Linked DNA regions of Homo sapiens: region 2 is linked to region 1. The links come from fine-mapping of genetic effects on gene expression. A gene starts in region 1. The other region holds a variant in brackets. All regions are shown on one strand. Distances are from middle to middle. Region 1 holds the start of FRRS1L (ferric chelate reductase 1 like). Region 2 overlaps FRRS1L (ferric chelate reductase 1 like).

What was found. PIP is the estimated chance that this variant, and not a neighbour inherited with it, causes the effect.
Region 2: its variant is fine-mapped to the expression of FRRS1L in cerebellar hemisphere (GTEx, PIP 0.90).

Annotation. Positions count from the first base shown.
Region 1 is chr9:109,163,711-109,171,983 of GRCh38, forward strand. It overlaps FRRS1L (ferric chelate reductase 1 like), which reads right to left and starts at 3,539. Exons shown (of 5, transcript NM_014334.4): 1 at 3,191-3,539. The coding sequence starts at 3,428. It overlaps EPB41L4B (erythrocyte membrane protein band 4.1 like 4B), which reads right to left. Exons shown (of 26, transcript NM_019114.5): 26 at 8,264-8,273.
Region 2 is chr9:109,132,378-109,140,706 of GRCh38, forward strand. FRRS1L (ferric chelate reductase 1 like) reads right to left here. Exons shown (of 5, transcript NM_014334.4): 5 at 1-5,250. The coding sequence ends at 5,078. Among named protein-coding and RNA genes, the nearest start is that of TMEM245, 17 kb to the left of the region's middle. The variant A/G (reference allele first, on the strand shown) is at 5,271.

The sequences.
Region 1 (8,273 bases):
TTCATGACTATTTGAGACATAAGAAGGGGGTACCCTGCACAGAGGGAACAAGTAGCCTAGTCACTAGAAATGGACAACCTCAAGTGTATTGATAGAATAAGTCAAAGGCATTACCGGCACTTCTTCACTTGCCACGTCCTCCAAGGTCAGTCAGGTTCCCTCCTTCCTTCTCCACTGAATCTGTCCTAGGAGAGTTCCACCCATAACCTCTCATCTCCTGAAACCATCGATAATTTTGAGCCTTCATGCTATCAGGCCACACCTTGGTAGGAAACAGGCTCTTTTCCTTTGCCTTCTGGGACACCCCTCTCTCCTGGTTCTTCTTCCCTCTCTCTGGCAACCCCTCCTCAGCCCCCGCTTTTAAGGCAATGTCACTGTTTATTTCTAAGCGTCTTGGGAAAGTCTCTATTCAGGACCCACAGGGATGAAGCCTAGGCCCAGGGTAATCTAGCAGAGGCACTGCCTCTGATAGCCCCACGCCACTTACATCTCAACTAGCACCCACCGGATGGTGGTAGAATCTGTATGCAAAGAGGAAATGAAACTGTCAGAGAGAAGAGGGTAGGAGAAGAATGGAGAGTAAAAGCTCAGGGTGAGGGAAGGGGAGATATGGTTGTAAAAGGAAGTTGAGCCAGGGAGGACATTTCAGATAAAGCAGTTGAATATTCATTCAGGGAGCAGGTTGATTTTTTTTTTTTTTTTTTGAGACCGAGTCTCACTCTGTTGTCCAGGATGGAGTGCAATGATGCAATCTCAGCTCACTGCAACCTCCCCACCTCCTGGGTTCAAGCAATTCTCCTGCCTCAGCCTCCTGAGTAGCTGGGATTACAGGCGTGCACCACCACGCCCGGCTAATTTTGTATTTTTAGTAGAGACGGGGTTTCACCATGTTGGCCAGGCTAGTCTCGAACTCCTGACCTCCTGATCCACCCACCTCAGCCTCCCAAAGTGCTGGGATTACAGTCGTGAAGCACCACGCCCGGCCCCATCACAGACTTTTGAGTGCAATGCCAACAGGTTAGAGGCAGACTTCAGGAGGGTTAAACCAGTTTTATGTGCAGAATGGTGGGGGCGCGAAGCAGACACACTAGGGATCGGTACAAAGCCCTGCTGCCTGCTATGTGATCACCTCACCTAAATGCCTTCCCTCTTCTGTGTCACTGAAGTCTTTCCTACTTCATGGCTTGACTCTATAAAAGCTGTCCTTGATGGCTGTGGCCCACCTGATGTCCACATTCATAAAACTTTCTGGACTATACAATGAACATATCATTCTCTCTGCAGAGAGACTCAAAGGACGTACAGAATCTGAGCTTATCCTTCATTTGTTAGATGCATGAGCCCAATCAGAATACAAGTTCTCACATACCACATTTAAGTCACCTGGCAGCACTAGGCTGTGTACAGTGTAAAGATACATTAGATGCTTTCAGAAACAGACGGGCTTCGGAATATTTATTCTTTTCCAGAGTGACAGATTCCGCCACATGGCTCTCCAGCTAGAAGACTACATTTCTTAGTCTCCCTTGAAGCTAGGTCATTGTAACTATGTTTTTGCCAAAGGAATGTGAACAGCAGTAATGTGGGCAGCCAGCCTAAAAGGTAACTACTTGCCCTGAACTTCTCTTTTTCTTTCCCTCAATCTTGAACAAGGACATGCAACCTGGCTTCTACTGTACTGATGAGGACAAAGCCTCAGGGGGATGGCAGAGCAACAAGATGGAAAGAACCCGGGTCCCTGAATGACCTTGCGGAACAGAGTCATCCCACCAGCCCCAGACCAACCAGACTCTTATCAGAGAGAAAAATAAACTAGCTTATTTAAACCACTATATGTTAAAATCTCTAATTCAGCAGTTAAGCCTCTACTTAATACATTTCCCCAAATCCATTCTCTCCATCTTCTTTAATACAATAATTCTGATTTTTGAACTGGGCATATTATGTCTCAGCTAATAGGCTCTATTTTACATCCTCCTTTGTACCTATGTGCAACCATATGATTAAGTTGTGGCCAAAGAAGTATAAAAATTGTTATATGAAACTTCCGAGTAATCCCTTTATAAAGTAGTCAGTGACCTTCTTCCTGCTTCATTTTTCCCACTGTCTAGAATGTGAACATAATGGCTGTAGCTCAAGCAGTTATTTTGAACCATGAAGTTACATGCTAAGAATTGTGAAGAAACAGAAGGGCAGGATCCAGAGACACTGGTGACCAAGGAGCCTCCAGACCAGTTCTGGATTACCTATTTCTAGTTTTCTTTCTGTAAGAGAGAAACTTCTATCTTGTTGAAGCTATTAATGTTTGCTTGTTGTATACAGCTGAACTTAATCCTAACAACAGACACATCCACTAACAGATATGAGCTCCTGGGACTCAACACTTCAAACCCCAGCTTGATGGTTGGATATCCCTCTTAGCAGAAGAAAAGGAAAGTCACTACTTCCCAAAGTTGCTTAAAGAGGCCAGTTTCCATTCCTTCTGACCACCATCCGCTTGGCTTTTGTGCTCGTTGAAGCAGCTCTACAGGGAGGCCCTTGGCTGACAAACTCCCAGTCTGCGGGCCCAGCAGGCCACAACAATGGTGGCTCGCACTAGGGGACCATAACATATGTGGCGTCATAAAAGAGGAGGGATGGGAGTGGGGAGGCTGATGTGACCCAGCTCTGACGGGTCAGTGAGCAGGAACAGAATGCTACGAGGTGGGCGCTGGTCACTGCAAATTTAAGTCAATACAGACAGGGAGGAAATAAGGCAACCTCTCTCTTTAGGTTGGGGTTTTTCTGCTTCCCCCTAGCTGCCCTGGCCAGATGGCGGCCTCCTCCCCTATAACCCAACCCCAGGCGGCAAAGGTGGAAGCCAGATCTAAGAACTGGGGGAGCTTAGACTCAGCACCCACCCCTATCCACAGCCTTGCAGAACTTGGATGACCCCTCCCTCTCCCAGCCTCACTCTCCCCATCTGTAAAGCGGGCGGCAGGCATTGACAGCTCTTTGGGCCTTTCCTCCAGGCCGGCGGAGGCCTGGGCACTGCGCTCCCCATCCTGGCCTCGCCTCTGCAAGAGCTGCCTCCACGGACATCTTTTCCGACCCCCTCCCCCTCCCTCGCCCCCTCTCCTCGTTCCCCCGATCCTCGGTCCCCCACCCCCGGTCTCCCCTCCCGCAACCCCTCGCCCTCCCGCAGCCTCACCCTCCTCCGACAGGTAGCGCAGGTCGTAGAACTCCCCCGCGAAGGTGCCGTAGGAGGAGTCGTGGCGCGGCACCGCCTCGTCGGCGCCCGTGTCCCCCCGCGCGCGTCCCCGGGGTCCCCGGCCCCCCGGGCCCGCACCGTCGTCCGCGGGGCTGGCTGCGCAGGCGGCGGGCCCCGTCAGTAGCAGCAGGAGCAGCGACGCCCAGACCCCCGGGTGCTGCCGGGGCGGCCGCGCCATCCGTGCGCACAGATCCCGCAGCCAGGCCGCTCGGGCCGCAGCGGGGGCGCCGCGGGCGCGGGCCGGGACTGAGCCTCCGCCGAGGCCACCAGCACGCGCCCGCGCAGCCGCGGAGCCTCCCGCACCCCCGCCTCCCTGCCTCGGTCTGCGCATCCTCGCTCCAGCACCGCAGCCTCCCCCTTCTTCTTGGAACCCCCCTCCTCCCCGCACCGATCTCTCCTTCCTAGCAGCTTCCCTTCTACCGTCCTTCTTTCCATTCTCCCCATCTCCCCGACTTCCCTCCACGCAGGCAGATTTGGCCCTTCTGGCCCCTTGCTACTCCGGAGTGTGGTCCGCGGACCGGCAGCATCAGCATCACCTGGAAGCTTGTTAGCATCGCTGAGGCCCCACTCCAGACCCATGAAGCGGGATGTTCATTTCATCAAAATTCCCAGGAGATCCCAATGCACGTTCAATTTATGAAACGCTCCTCTAGAGAGTTTACCCTGGACACACCTGGTCAGTGCTGCCTCCTCAACCTTGTGCCGGCACTTTTTGGTTTACATAAAGCACTTGCTAGACCTATTATTTCTTGGATCATCACAGAAGGAACTTGAAATTGCAAGACCCCCACAATAGAGCTAGGTAAACTGAGGTGTTTAGAGACAGAGAAAACTGGATTCACCTGCTTCCTCTCCAGGCTCTTGCGGTGTGTAATCAACAGAGGCTGGTGCCAGTAGGTAACCTGTTCCCCTTCAAAACTAGGCTTCTGGTTTACTCTCTTTCCCTGCAGCAAGCACGCGCAGGCCTTGGAAGGCCCACACCGTATCTGAGGGCCATGCTGAATTGTTGATTTTTCTCAAATCCATTCCTGCTGCTTGCAGTTCACTTTTGGCTATTTACTCAGCCATCCATTGATTCACACCAAGCATTTGCTTTATGGCAGGTCCCAGGGTTCTCTTTTGATGATGGTTGTTGGGGTGATATATTCGAATTGCTAAGCTGTTTTCCATCAGAGAGGCGGACGCAATTCCTTTCAGGCTGGTGTTGCAGAGCCAGCATTTTAACCTGCTTTTCCTATTTTATTATTTTATTTTATTGCATAAACAAAATAATTATGGAGGCAGAAAAGCATAGAGGTCCCAAATGCAGACCTAGAAGTCAGACTGCCTGATCTCTCATGATTAGTCATTGACATGATGCAATGAAGATTAGGGAAGATCATAGAGGTAAGGATCAATAGGGTTCAGTGCTGTAAGTGGCATGCACACATGTACACAATATTGTGAAATGTTAATATTCAAAAGGAAACTAGTGATCTTAACCCTTTATGGCCTGATTGGCTGAGAGATAAGGGTAGTGCTGTTGAAACAGGGGAGACATGATGGGGGACTTAGAAGTCAGGTATTTTCTATTAGGTATCAGCTAACAGTGGGCTGTCCAACTGGAATTTAAACATATTAATCCTGATGGCTGAATTGAGGTGTAATTCATGAAAACCTTGGGCTTCACTAGGTCCCCCAACATAGCAGTTGTCACAAAAAATAGATCAGATTATTTGAAAAAGGTAAGATGAACTATGATTACTTTAAAAACTCAAGAGACTTCTTCCCAAAAAGCATAGCGTGGCAATGCATAACATTCTAAAAAAGCTGATCCAACAGATTGAAAATCTGTTAAAGTGTAGTCCTTCAAAAAAAAAAAAAAAAACAAAAACAAAAACAAAAACCTTAAACCTTTCTTAAAAATTAAAATTTCTTTATTTTCTTTTCTTCTCTTTCTGTTCACCAGGGAAGGTATGGTCAACTTAGAATGGACCAAAGTTTAGCCAAAAAAATAAAGCATTAGACTTTTGATTTCAGTGTAGATTCTCTGGTTTGGGAATACAAGCTTTTACCTCTTACTTTCCTTTTTATTCCCTTCATTTTGGTTACTGAAATTAACAATAACGGTGCCCAAATAGAAGGCAAATGAAAACCAGGCCATTCTTCTCCGAGTAAATTAATCTGATATAAAAACACGTGGGCAGCCGGGCACGGTGGCTCACGCCTGTAACTCCAGCACTTTGGGAGGCCGAGGCGGGCGGATCACAAGGTCAGAAGATCGACACCATCCTGGCCAACACGGTGAAATCCCGTCTCTACTGAAAATACAAAAAATTAGCCGGGCATGGTGTCGGGCGCCTGAAGTCCCAGCTACTCGGGAAGCTAAGGCAGGAGAATGGCGTGAACCTGGGAGGCGGAGCTTGCAGTGAGTCGAGATCAGGCCACTGCACTCTAGCCTGGGCGACAGAGCAAGACTCCATCTCAAAAAACAAACAAAAAACAAACAAAAAAACAAAACAAAACAAAAAAAACCACCACCACGTGGGCTTTCTATATTGTTTTTATGGGGGTATTTGGGTATTTTGGGGACGGTTTACAACTACAGCCTAAAATGAAGTTTGCAGGTAAACTGTGGATTTCAATTCTCTCTCTACTCATGTAGACTCACAGGGGGCCACAGATAGGCTTCAGGGGTGATATGAGGACCTTATGAAAGTGCTGGAATAATGTTGTGATGTATGGGTTTTTCTAGGGAGAAAACCCATAGCTTTTTTTATGAATTATTTTTTCCATGTTCAACTTTTTTTTTAATTTACTTTAAGTTCTGGGATACATGTGCAAAATGTACAGGTTTGTTACATAGGTATACATGTGCCATGGTGGTTTGCTGTACCCATCAACCCGTCATCTAGGTTTTAAGCCTGCATGCGTTAGGTATTTGTCCTAATGCTCTCCCTCCCCTTGCCTCACCCCCCACAACATGCCTCGGTGTGTGATGTTCCCCTCCCTGTGTCCATGTGTTCTCACTGTTCAACTCCCACTTATGAGTGAGAACATGCAGTGTTTGGGAAAACCTATAGCTTTTATGGGTCACTCAAGCCTTATGCCTTTTCAGGGCCCAGCAACCTATTCGGCTCCTTCCATTTCATGAGATTCTCTCCCATCCACTCAAATTGCCTTTGGGGATTTTCTTTCTCTTCATGTTTTCTGACACGATTTAAGTCCTGGAAAGAGTGGAGGCAGACCTATTCCAACCTTAAGCACATGCTCCCCTCTTAGTTACATCCTAGGTTTGCAGAGACCCTCTGTTCCCCACCAATGTGACTCTACAGAACAGCTAAGAAATATTGTAGTTTCCTCTACTGTGCAAATTTTCTGGGGAGGAACTTTGCCTGAACATTCTGAGACCACTGGCTGTACAAGAGCTGGCCACTCAAACAAAAACTTAGAGATGAACCAGATTTAAATTCATTTTCATTTTAAAAAGAAAGACAGTACCTTTATTTTCTCTCCACCTCAAAGCAATTTCTCTGACACAACCTTTTTTGCGATTAAAAACTCCCAAAATCATTGCTGCATCTTGGTATCTGATGAGTAACCGATTTGCCCAGGCTTCTGACTGTCTAGTATATATAATTTTTCACTTTGGATTTTGTAAGAAATAAAAGCTGTGATTGTGGCAGTTCCTTAGAAAGTTAAACATGGAGTTTCCATTTGACCCAGCAATTCCAAGAGAATTTAAAACAGATGTTCACACAAAAACTTGTACACAAATGTTCATAACAATATTATTATTATTATTTTCTAAGACGGAGTTTCACTCTTGTTGCCCAGGCTGGAGTGCAACGGTGTAATCTTGGCTCACCGCAACCTCTGCCTCCCGGGTTCAAGTGATTCTCCTGCCTCAGCCTCCCTAGTAGCTGGGATTACAGGCATGCACCACCATGCCCAGGTAATTTTGTATAGTAGAGATGGGGTTTCTCCATGTTGGTCAGGCTGGCCTCGAACTCCTGACCTCAGGTGATCTGCCCACCTCGACCTCCCAAAGTGCTGGGATTACAGGTGTGAACCACCGCGCCCAGCCTAGCAGTATTATTCATAATAGCCAAAAAGCAGAAGCAACCCAAATATCTATCAACTGACGCAACTGATGACTGGATAAGCCAAATATGGTATATCCATATAATAACACATTATTAAGCCATAAAAAGGAGTGCAGTTCTGATACATGCTACAACATGGATGAACCTTGAAAACACTATGTTAAGTGAAAGAAGCCAGTCACAAAAGACTACATATTGTATGATTTTGTTCATATGAAATTTCCAGAATAAGCAAATCCATAGACGGAAAGTAGATTAGTGGTCGCCAGGTGATGCCAGGGGTCAGAATCAGTAGTGACTGCTAACAGACATGGGGTTTCCTTTTGGCATGATGTAAATGTTCTGGAATTAGATAGTGGTATTGTCTGCACAACATTGTGAATGCATTAGAAACCACTGAATTGTACGCTTTAAAATGGTTATAGTGATGAATTTTATTTGAGTTTTTAAAACTGTAATTTTTGAGATGGTGAAAGATAAATATGATACCAGAATATTCCTCTGCTATATTCCTGGGGAATATAAAATTCTGGGTGCATGCAAGTGGGATCTTCTGAATGCCCTAGGATCTCAAACTCTTCAAACATAGAATTTCCTATGCAGTTTACAATCCATAAAGCTGTGGGTTGCAGGTTTCCCAGACCCCTTGCAATAACCTTCCATGCCTACTGGGAATCTGCATCCTACAGTTTGGAGCCCTAGCTCTGGAATGACTATGTCAGTAAGCTGATTGTTTCCCCCGGACATAAGGTGTGTGTTGTGTGCCCATATAGTGCTGTTGTTTGGGTTTAAAATATATAAAAAATGTGAAACAATTGCGCCAATTCATTTTCATCCCTATGAATCCATCCAGCACAATTTCATCTTCTCAGTCACAATGCCAAGCACCCATCATTCACTTAAATAGGCAAATAACCAGGACAACTGCTGAAACCATG
Region 2 (8,329 bases), 31 kb before region 1:
AGTTACTTAAGACAAAACTGCTGCTTAGCCGGCTCTGTACTTTACTGCCACCACTTTTGCATCAATTCCAGAAAATATATTAGAATGCAAGAGCATGAGATGCCCTGTGCCATTTATTTATAAAAATAAATCAACAATAATTTATTTTAAAAGCAAATTATTCACTAACTTTGATATTCTTACAACTAACCAGTAATAATATGTTACTGGCAGTATCCTTTACAACTAATCATGATATATTGGTGTGTCCCTATCTAAGAACAAGGGTGGGAAAGCCACAGTCCATAAGCAAACCCCGCCTGCTTCCTGTTTTTGTGCAGCCTGCAAGCTAAGAATGGTCTTTGGATTTTTTTAATGGCTTTCTGAAAAAAATCAAAAGGAAAACATTTGTGACATTTGAAAAGTACATGAAATTCAAAGTTCAGTGTCAATTAAGTTTTATTGGAACATAGCCATGCTCATTCATTTATGTATTGTTTATAGCAGAGCCAAACAGAGACTGAAAAGCCAAAAAACTACTATCTGACCCTTAACAGAGAAAGTTTGCTGACCCCTGGAGTAGAGATAAGAATGACACACAACCTCAGTGGTCACGTCTCTTATGCACAAAATCCTGAATATAGACAGTAAACTTAATTCCAGAAATAGTAGTAAATACCATCTAGGATGGAAATCCATTCCTGAGTTGTCCAAACTTTCTGATTTCTTTAATGACAAAAGCCAACTTAATTAAATACAGCTTCTGCATTCTATCTGAAATCATGTTTATATATTCACCTTTTGACTCAGCGGAGCAATAAAAAAAGCACTGGGCTCCAAGTTAGAAGACCTAGGTTTTAGGCAATTTCTTTTAAATTGTTACATTGTTAAAAATGTATTTAAGTCTTGTTTGATCTGTGTATTAAACCTATTAAAAGAACTAAAATGACTGGTAAAATAAAGAATCAAAATGCTTTTAAGCAGAAAAGAAAGTTGATATAGAGTAAAACATGCTCCTTTCCTCTAAATATAACTATAAAAAGTCCTCCAATTAATTGTAAATTACTAAATGGGGGAAAAAAGGCACCTAGCTAATTGGAGTATGGATAGTGGGTTCCATTTAATAAAAGTTTTAATGGATGTGCACGAAGGTGCATGAATGTGTAGGAAATCATATCACCTCCTTAGGCTTCAGCTGCACCTCTGTAAAATAAGAGCATTGGATTAAATGGTCTCTAAAGTCCTGGCCAGCACTGGTAATTTATGTCAAGTGACCAGCCTCAGTTTTTTCATCTGTAAAATTGGATAAATAATAGAATCTACTTCCTATGGTTGCGGTGAGGATTAAATGAGTTAATTCATGTAAAGTGCTTAGAACAGCACTAAATATATTTCACTAGCATTATTATTAATCTATTCAGGTACTTTACGAAAAACACTGGTTGGGCATCTCCTCTGTGACAAGTAGTATATTAGAAAATGGGAATACAGACATAAAATAGAAGTTGATTCTCTTATATTTAAGTAGGGATGAATGAAACTGAAGTTTTTGGAATTATCACTTCAGCATGTCTATCGACTGCTAGTTCTCTGAGATAATGGTCAAAGGCCATTCTGTATCACTGGTGTGAATTCTTATTTCTGAAAAATGATTACTGTTAGTACTGTTACTAAGGATGTTTCTATTTATGTTTCAAAAGACAAAGTTCAGTGTTTGCTAACATAATTATTTATGGTTTGAGCATAGGAGGAAGAATATAAAAATGTTGGCCAGTCTCCCAATATACATGAAATGCAAGCCTTCTGAACCAAACAAACTTGCCATAGAAGTATAGTTTCACATATAGATTCATTCCACAAATGTTTGCTGAGTACCTGATATGGATAAATATCTGCTACAATGATGAGTAATGGTCTCTGCATTAGGGAGATAACAAGGAGGACAAGCCAGCAATTCTAGAAAAGTATAACGAGCATGTTGATGAGGAAGCCCAATGTGCTATGGGAGCATTTGATGGGGGCCTGGACCTATGTAGTCCAGAGATTTGGAGGAAAAAATATTTAAGTTGTGACCTGATAGGTGAATAGGAGTTCATCAAGCACAAGAGGTGGAGAATATGAACAAAATGAGAGGTGAGATAGAGCAGGTCTGAAGAACTGAGAGCCTCTCAGTCTTGCTAAGACATAGCAAGTGAGGAGGAGTGGCAAAAGATGATATTGCAGGTCACAGAAATGGCTTGCATTTTACCTTAATGGCACTGAGAAGTCATTGAAAGTTCTAAGCATAAATAAGCAAAATCGGTAATCAAATGAGAAATCACTAGTGAAATAATTAGCTTGATTAGAAATGTAAGCGGAAGGAAGCTGCATTCACTTCTTCCTTCCCTGCCTGCTACTAAGCTGAAGTCTCTCTTTTGTTTTAACCTGTTTGTAGCTCAAATATTATACACATAAGAGAGAGAAATATAAAAATATTTGCTTCTTATTTACAACATGGCTGCCTGCATATCAGTATCTTCACTACTAAACAGCCACTAGAGCTGAGAAGATGAGACACAGGCCAGACTTAGCCATGCCCAGAGTGGAGTCAAGGACTTGAACCAGGGGACTTGAGTTTGAATCCTACCCAGTTCCATTATGCACTTGATGTCATTTAATTTCTCCCCATCTGCAATGAACAGAATTTCTCCTCCATCCCTCCTTGGAAGCTTTTGGTAACTGTGTTTGTTGATGTTTTCCTTATTTTGGTTCAACTCCAGGAGAATGTGAAAGCTCTCCCCACAGGCAGACTTTCACCTGTGACATGAATCTGGAGGGTGGTATTAGAAATCACAATCACCAGTGTTGCTCAATCATAAAGCCCACGAAGTTGGAACCAGCTTTAAAGCAACAAGGGCAAGCCAGAGAACTCTAGAATGCCAGAGTGGAAATGTCTCAGCAGCACTAACTATACCTGCAGACTTCTCTCCTCAAAATGGGCAGTTAGCACAGACATTTGGAACAAAGAACAAAGGAGTCCTTTGGGGCGCCTAATGTCAAGGCATTACTATGAATTATGCTGACTACCTGTCTAGTTTATAAGTCTGAACATTTTATTTTACTTATTTTTTTGAGACAGGGTCTCCCTCTGTCACCCAGGCTGGAGTGCAAGTGGCACAATTTTGGCTCACTGCAAGCTCTGCCTCCAAGGTTCAAGTGATTCTCGTGCCTCAGCCTCCCAAGTGGCTGGGATTACAGGCATGTGCCACCACACCCGGCTAATTTTTGTATTTTTAGTGGAGACAAGGTTTTGCCATGTTGGCCAGACTGGTCTCGAACTCCTGACCTCAGGTGATCCGCCTGCCTTGGCCTCCCAAAGTGCTGGGATTACAGGTGTGAGCCACCGCGCTCAGCCACAAGTCTGAACATTTAAATGGATATTCTAGGTGAATTCACTTTATGGGTCATTTTCCCATTTTCAATTATTTTTTAAAAAGCCACCTCATAAAAAAAATTCTACTCAAAATCTCTACAGTCTCAAAAACTGTTGGCTTATTATTAAAATGCCCTAAATTTTTACTAAGATGTTTTGTCTGATATAACACATTTTTAGGCCAGGCACGGTGGCTCACACCTGTAATCCTAGCACTCTGGGAGGCCAAAGCAGGTGGATCACCTGAGGTCAGGAGTTCGAGACCAGCCTGACTAAAATGGTGAAACTCCATCTCTACTAAAAATACAAAAAAATTAGCCAGGCATAGTGGCACATGCCTGTAATCCCATCTACTCAGGAGGCTGAGGCAGGAGAATCACTTGAACCTGGGAGGCGGAGGTTGCAGTGAAGCTGAGATCACACCATTGTACTCCAGCCTGGGCGACAAGAGGGAAAATTCATCGCAAAAAAAAAAAAAAATACATTTTTAATCACACTTAAGGTATGCTGGCTCTGACAAGAGAATTCACTGTAACCACAGATGAATACCTTAGTTTTATAAAATTCAGTGGTAGAAAAGTTCAAATTCTAACTGCTAAGAATTCCCTTTTTTTTTTTTTTTAATATCATTAACACAACTTTACATCTTCAGGAATGCTCACAGTTTGGTCTCCAACCTTTGCAAATAGCAGTAAAAATGTTTTCCCATAGCTGCTCTCTAACTGAGAAGAAATTTCAAATAAATATTATTTATTTAGTTAGTTATTTTTGAGACAGAGTCTGGCTCTGTCACCTAGGCTGGAGTGCACTGGCACAATCTCGGCTCACTGCAACCTCCGCCTCCTGGGTTCCAGCAATTCTCCTGCCTCAGCCTCCCGAATAGCTGGGATTATAGGTGTGCACCACCACGCCTGGCTCATTTTTGTACTTTTTAATAGAGACGGGGGTTTCACCACATTGGCCAGGCTGGTCTCGAACTCCTGACCTCAGGTGACCTGCCCGTCTTGGCCTCCTAAAGTGCTGGGATCACAGGCGTGAGCCACCATGCTCGGCCAAAATTTCAAATAAATATGAACTATTTTCATATCATTGTATTTTCCTCCAATCTCCCCATTGGCTGTGTAAATATCCAAAAGCACTTCTGCTTTACGGAAATTTGAAATTTCTTCTGCCCAAAAGGCTGACTGTGAACTTATGACATTCAGTAAAGTTCTCCCTAGTAATATTCAAAATAACTCTCTGTGCTATAGCACTCATAGTAAAGACTGTTTTGAGACATGATTTCTATACTTAGTTCCTTCTCTGCCTTTCTATTTGTCATTTCTAGCCAAAGTTATATGGTATGTGGATCATAAAAAGGCAGTCTTTTTGGGTCTCAAATCCCATTCAGGAAGATGGCAATCACAATTTTCATCAATCCAACTCAGAGATGTTGTGAAGTTAAATAAGAAAACATATGTGAAAGTGCTTAGAAAAGGTGTAAGTATGTTCCAAAAGTATAGGGTCATTATTAAACAATCTTCTTTGACTACAAAAGAAGCTTGTTCTTTCTTCCAAAAAGCTGAAATTATATGAGGTTTTTTTTCTTAAATAATTGAAGCTAAAATTATACTGGATATTCTTTAAAAAATATATTTATACTAAAGACTTCCCAATCCATGTAATCTGTTGGCCCTGCAGCTGTGGTTAGGGGGTTCCCATCAATAGGTAGAAGGTCAGAGCAACAATCAGAAGCAAACAAAATGGAGATGAGAAGGTTTGATAGGCAGCTGATGGCATAAAAATGTCTTCATACTTGTAAATACTGACAACACGCTCTGAAGCCGGCGGTGAGTCTATATCATGTCGAGTGATAGAGCCTTTAAGAAAAAAAGAGAAG[A/G]GCAGGGGCAATTGAAAAAAGAACAGATTTATAATGGTATAGGCAAACAATGGAAAAATCAAAAGTCTATTTAGTGTTGAATACGTAAGCAGTGGTTACAAAGATCTGGATTCAGGTATTTGAGTTATCAGAATTCTCTATCATTGTACATATAATAAAGAACATAGAAATTAGTTAAATTTATCCAAAAAGACTAGTTCTTATTAATCTGCACTCCCCCATCAGAACAATGCTGTTGATCTGTTTCCTGCCATCTCAATTTTAAAACTACTAGTTACATAATTTTGTGTGATTATTGTATGATTGCCTCCTAAAACGGCTCTATGAGTTTTGTCTTATTAATACCCAAATGGGCAAACTATATTTTTATTTCAAACAGCAGAGACTACTAACTTTTTCCCTCAAATCTATCTTGTATATATATGGATCATCAACAACTCCTGACAACACTACTAACGTCTCCCTTACAGATGGAAGCCCTCCTCTACTGTCTGTGGGACACTTAGTAGCCTGCCCAGGCCATGCCAGAGGGAGTGTGGTATACTGGATGTGTGTCTGTGTGTGTCTGTGTGTCTGGCAGATTAGGGTAGAATGGTATAGAAAGTGGGATGATTAAAGTACCAAACTAGTCTTTGGATGGGAAACTTTCTTTTAATTTTGTTACAAGTGGAAAGAAGTACAGACTGTGTGTAAAATATATTTAATAATCTTCAGTTGATTAAAAGTGTCTGACCTCCTGAATAATCCATTTGAAACTTGGGTTAGGGAGACTAAGGCATATACATTCAGTGCAAAGGTCTCCTTAGGAATAGGGCTCAGAGTGAGGGTTTTTAAGGTCCTATCTGCTAGGGAAGCCCTGCCAAACTTGACATGTCAGGTCCCTGCTTAGTGTCCGTGCTGGCCCCAGTTAGCAAAAATCAAACTTCTCAGGTTTGTATGCCTGTAGTTTCAGACACTTGGGAGGCTGAGGTGGGAGGATCACTTAAACCTGGGAGGTGGAGGCTGCAGTGAGCTGTGATTGTTTCACTGCACTCCAGACTGGGTAACAGAGCAGACTTTTCTCTCAATAGATCCCAGTCACCTCTCCTACCTAACCTCAGCTCACTGGTCACCTGCAAGGGCTGCTCAACTTAACTATGCGCCTACAGTTCATGCCTTCTTTGAGTGAAATCCAACCTCATACCCCTTTCAAGCCTTAGTTCAAAGTTTTCCCCCTTACAGGGACCTTAGGAGAATAGGTAGGATATAATCAATTAAAAGGGCATTCAGGAGGCCGGGTGTGGTGGCTCATGCCTGTAATCCCAGCACTTTGGGAGGCTGAGGTGGGCGGATCACAAGATCAGGAGTTTGAGACCAGCCTGGCAAACATGGTGACACAGCGTCTCTACTAAAAATACAAAAGTTATCTGGGTGTGGTGGTGGGCATCTGTAATCCCAGCTACTCGGGAGGCTGAGGCAGGAGAACTGCTTGAACCTGGGAGGCTGAGGTTGCAGTGAGCCAAGATCGCGCCATTGCACTCCAGCCTGGGCGACAGAGTGAGACTCCGTTTAAAAAAAAATAAAAATAAAAACATAAAAAAAATAGAAGGGCATTCAGGAAACAAGAAAAGCAGAAGCCAGTATATGGGGTAGGAATGTGCCTGTTTTGCTTAGAGTTAGTGAGAAGAACAGAAGTTTTGAGAGAGCTTATCAGGTAAAGCAGGACCAGATTTGGAGAAGGCTTTGAACTTTAGGCTAGTCTGCCATATATGTAAAAAGATGACCTTCTGAAAATACAGCTTTTTCCAATTGGTAAAGCAATTTCAAATACTTGTTTTCACTTAATCCTTACAATATTTCCATGGAATAGGAAGTATTATTATCCCCACTTTAGATATAAGGAAATGAAATTCAGAAATTAAATAATAGGCTAAATATTATACAGCTACCAAGGGGCAGAACCAATACTCAAACTCAAATTTTTAGACTTCAAATCCCACTATTTTAGATTACTCCATTTCTCCAGGCTGAGATATAATTTATTTCCCAGGGTACCGAAAGTAATTGAAGTTATAACTGCAGAGCCACTGTTGGTAATCTGGGAAATTAGCAAATGGAAAAGGTGTCACCAATCTGGAGACAGTCAAGTGTCTTCCCAATTGGCAACAGGCAAAATAAAAGGTAGATTATGTCATCTCTGGGCTGATTGGTGGAAACGAATTGAAGGAAAAAAACAACCAGATCAGATTAGGCAGCAAATAGTTGATGAGCACACAGTAAAGAAAGATGCAATTACCAGGAGCCAGAATGAATTCTCAGTGCAAGGACTGCAAACCACACTCACTTCCATTCTTGAGCAGGCCCTTAGGCTAATCAACCAGAAGGAATGCTCAAGACTCAGTGTAACTTGATTTTAGCAGTCTCTAAAAGGTCTCATGATATCCTTGGGTCTTTGCTGGGCAAATGCTGCAGAGACTTGCCACCCAAAATGAGGTCATCAATGAACCAGCATGACCAGGGAGCTTATTAGAAATGCAGAATCTTGCCAGGCATGGTAGCTCACACCTGTAATCCCAGCACTTAGGGAGGCCAAAGCTGGTGGATCGGTTGAGCCCAGGAGTTCAAGACCAGCCTGGGCAATATGGTGAAACCCTGTCTCTACTAAAAATACAAAAAAGTTAGCCAGGCATAGTGGCGCATGACTGTAGTCCCAGCTACTTGGGAGCCTGAGGTGGGAGGGTCACTTAAACCTGGGAGGTGGAGGCTGCAGTGAGCTCTGATTGTTTCATTGCACTCCAGCCTGGGTGACAGAGCAAGACCCTGGGAGAGGAGGGAAGGGGAGGGGAGACCAGTAGAGGGGAGGAGAGAGGGGAAGACCTACAGAAAACTGCACTTTAACAATATAGCCAGGTAATTCCTATACACATAAATATTTAAGGAGTAATGGGTTAAACTATGGGATAATTTGGTAGATTTGTGACTAACAGAATAGTCACAAAGTGGGCCCTAATGAAATGCTTGGTGTCAATCTCTGGAGAAGTCTCCAGAAGCCCTTCCTGTTCAGTACTTTTTATTATTTC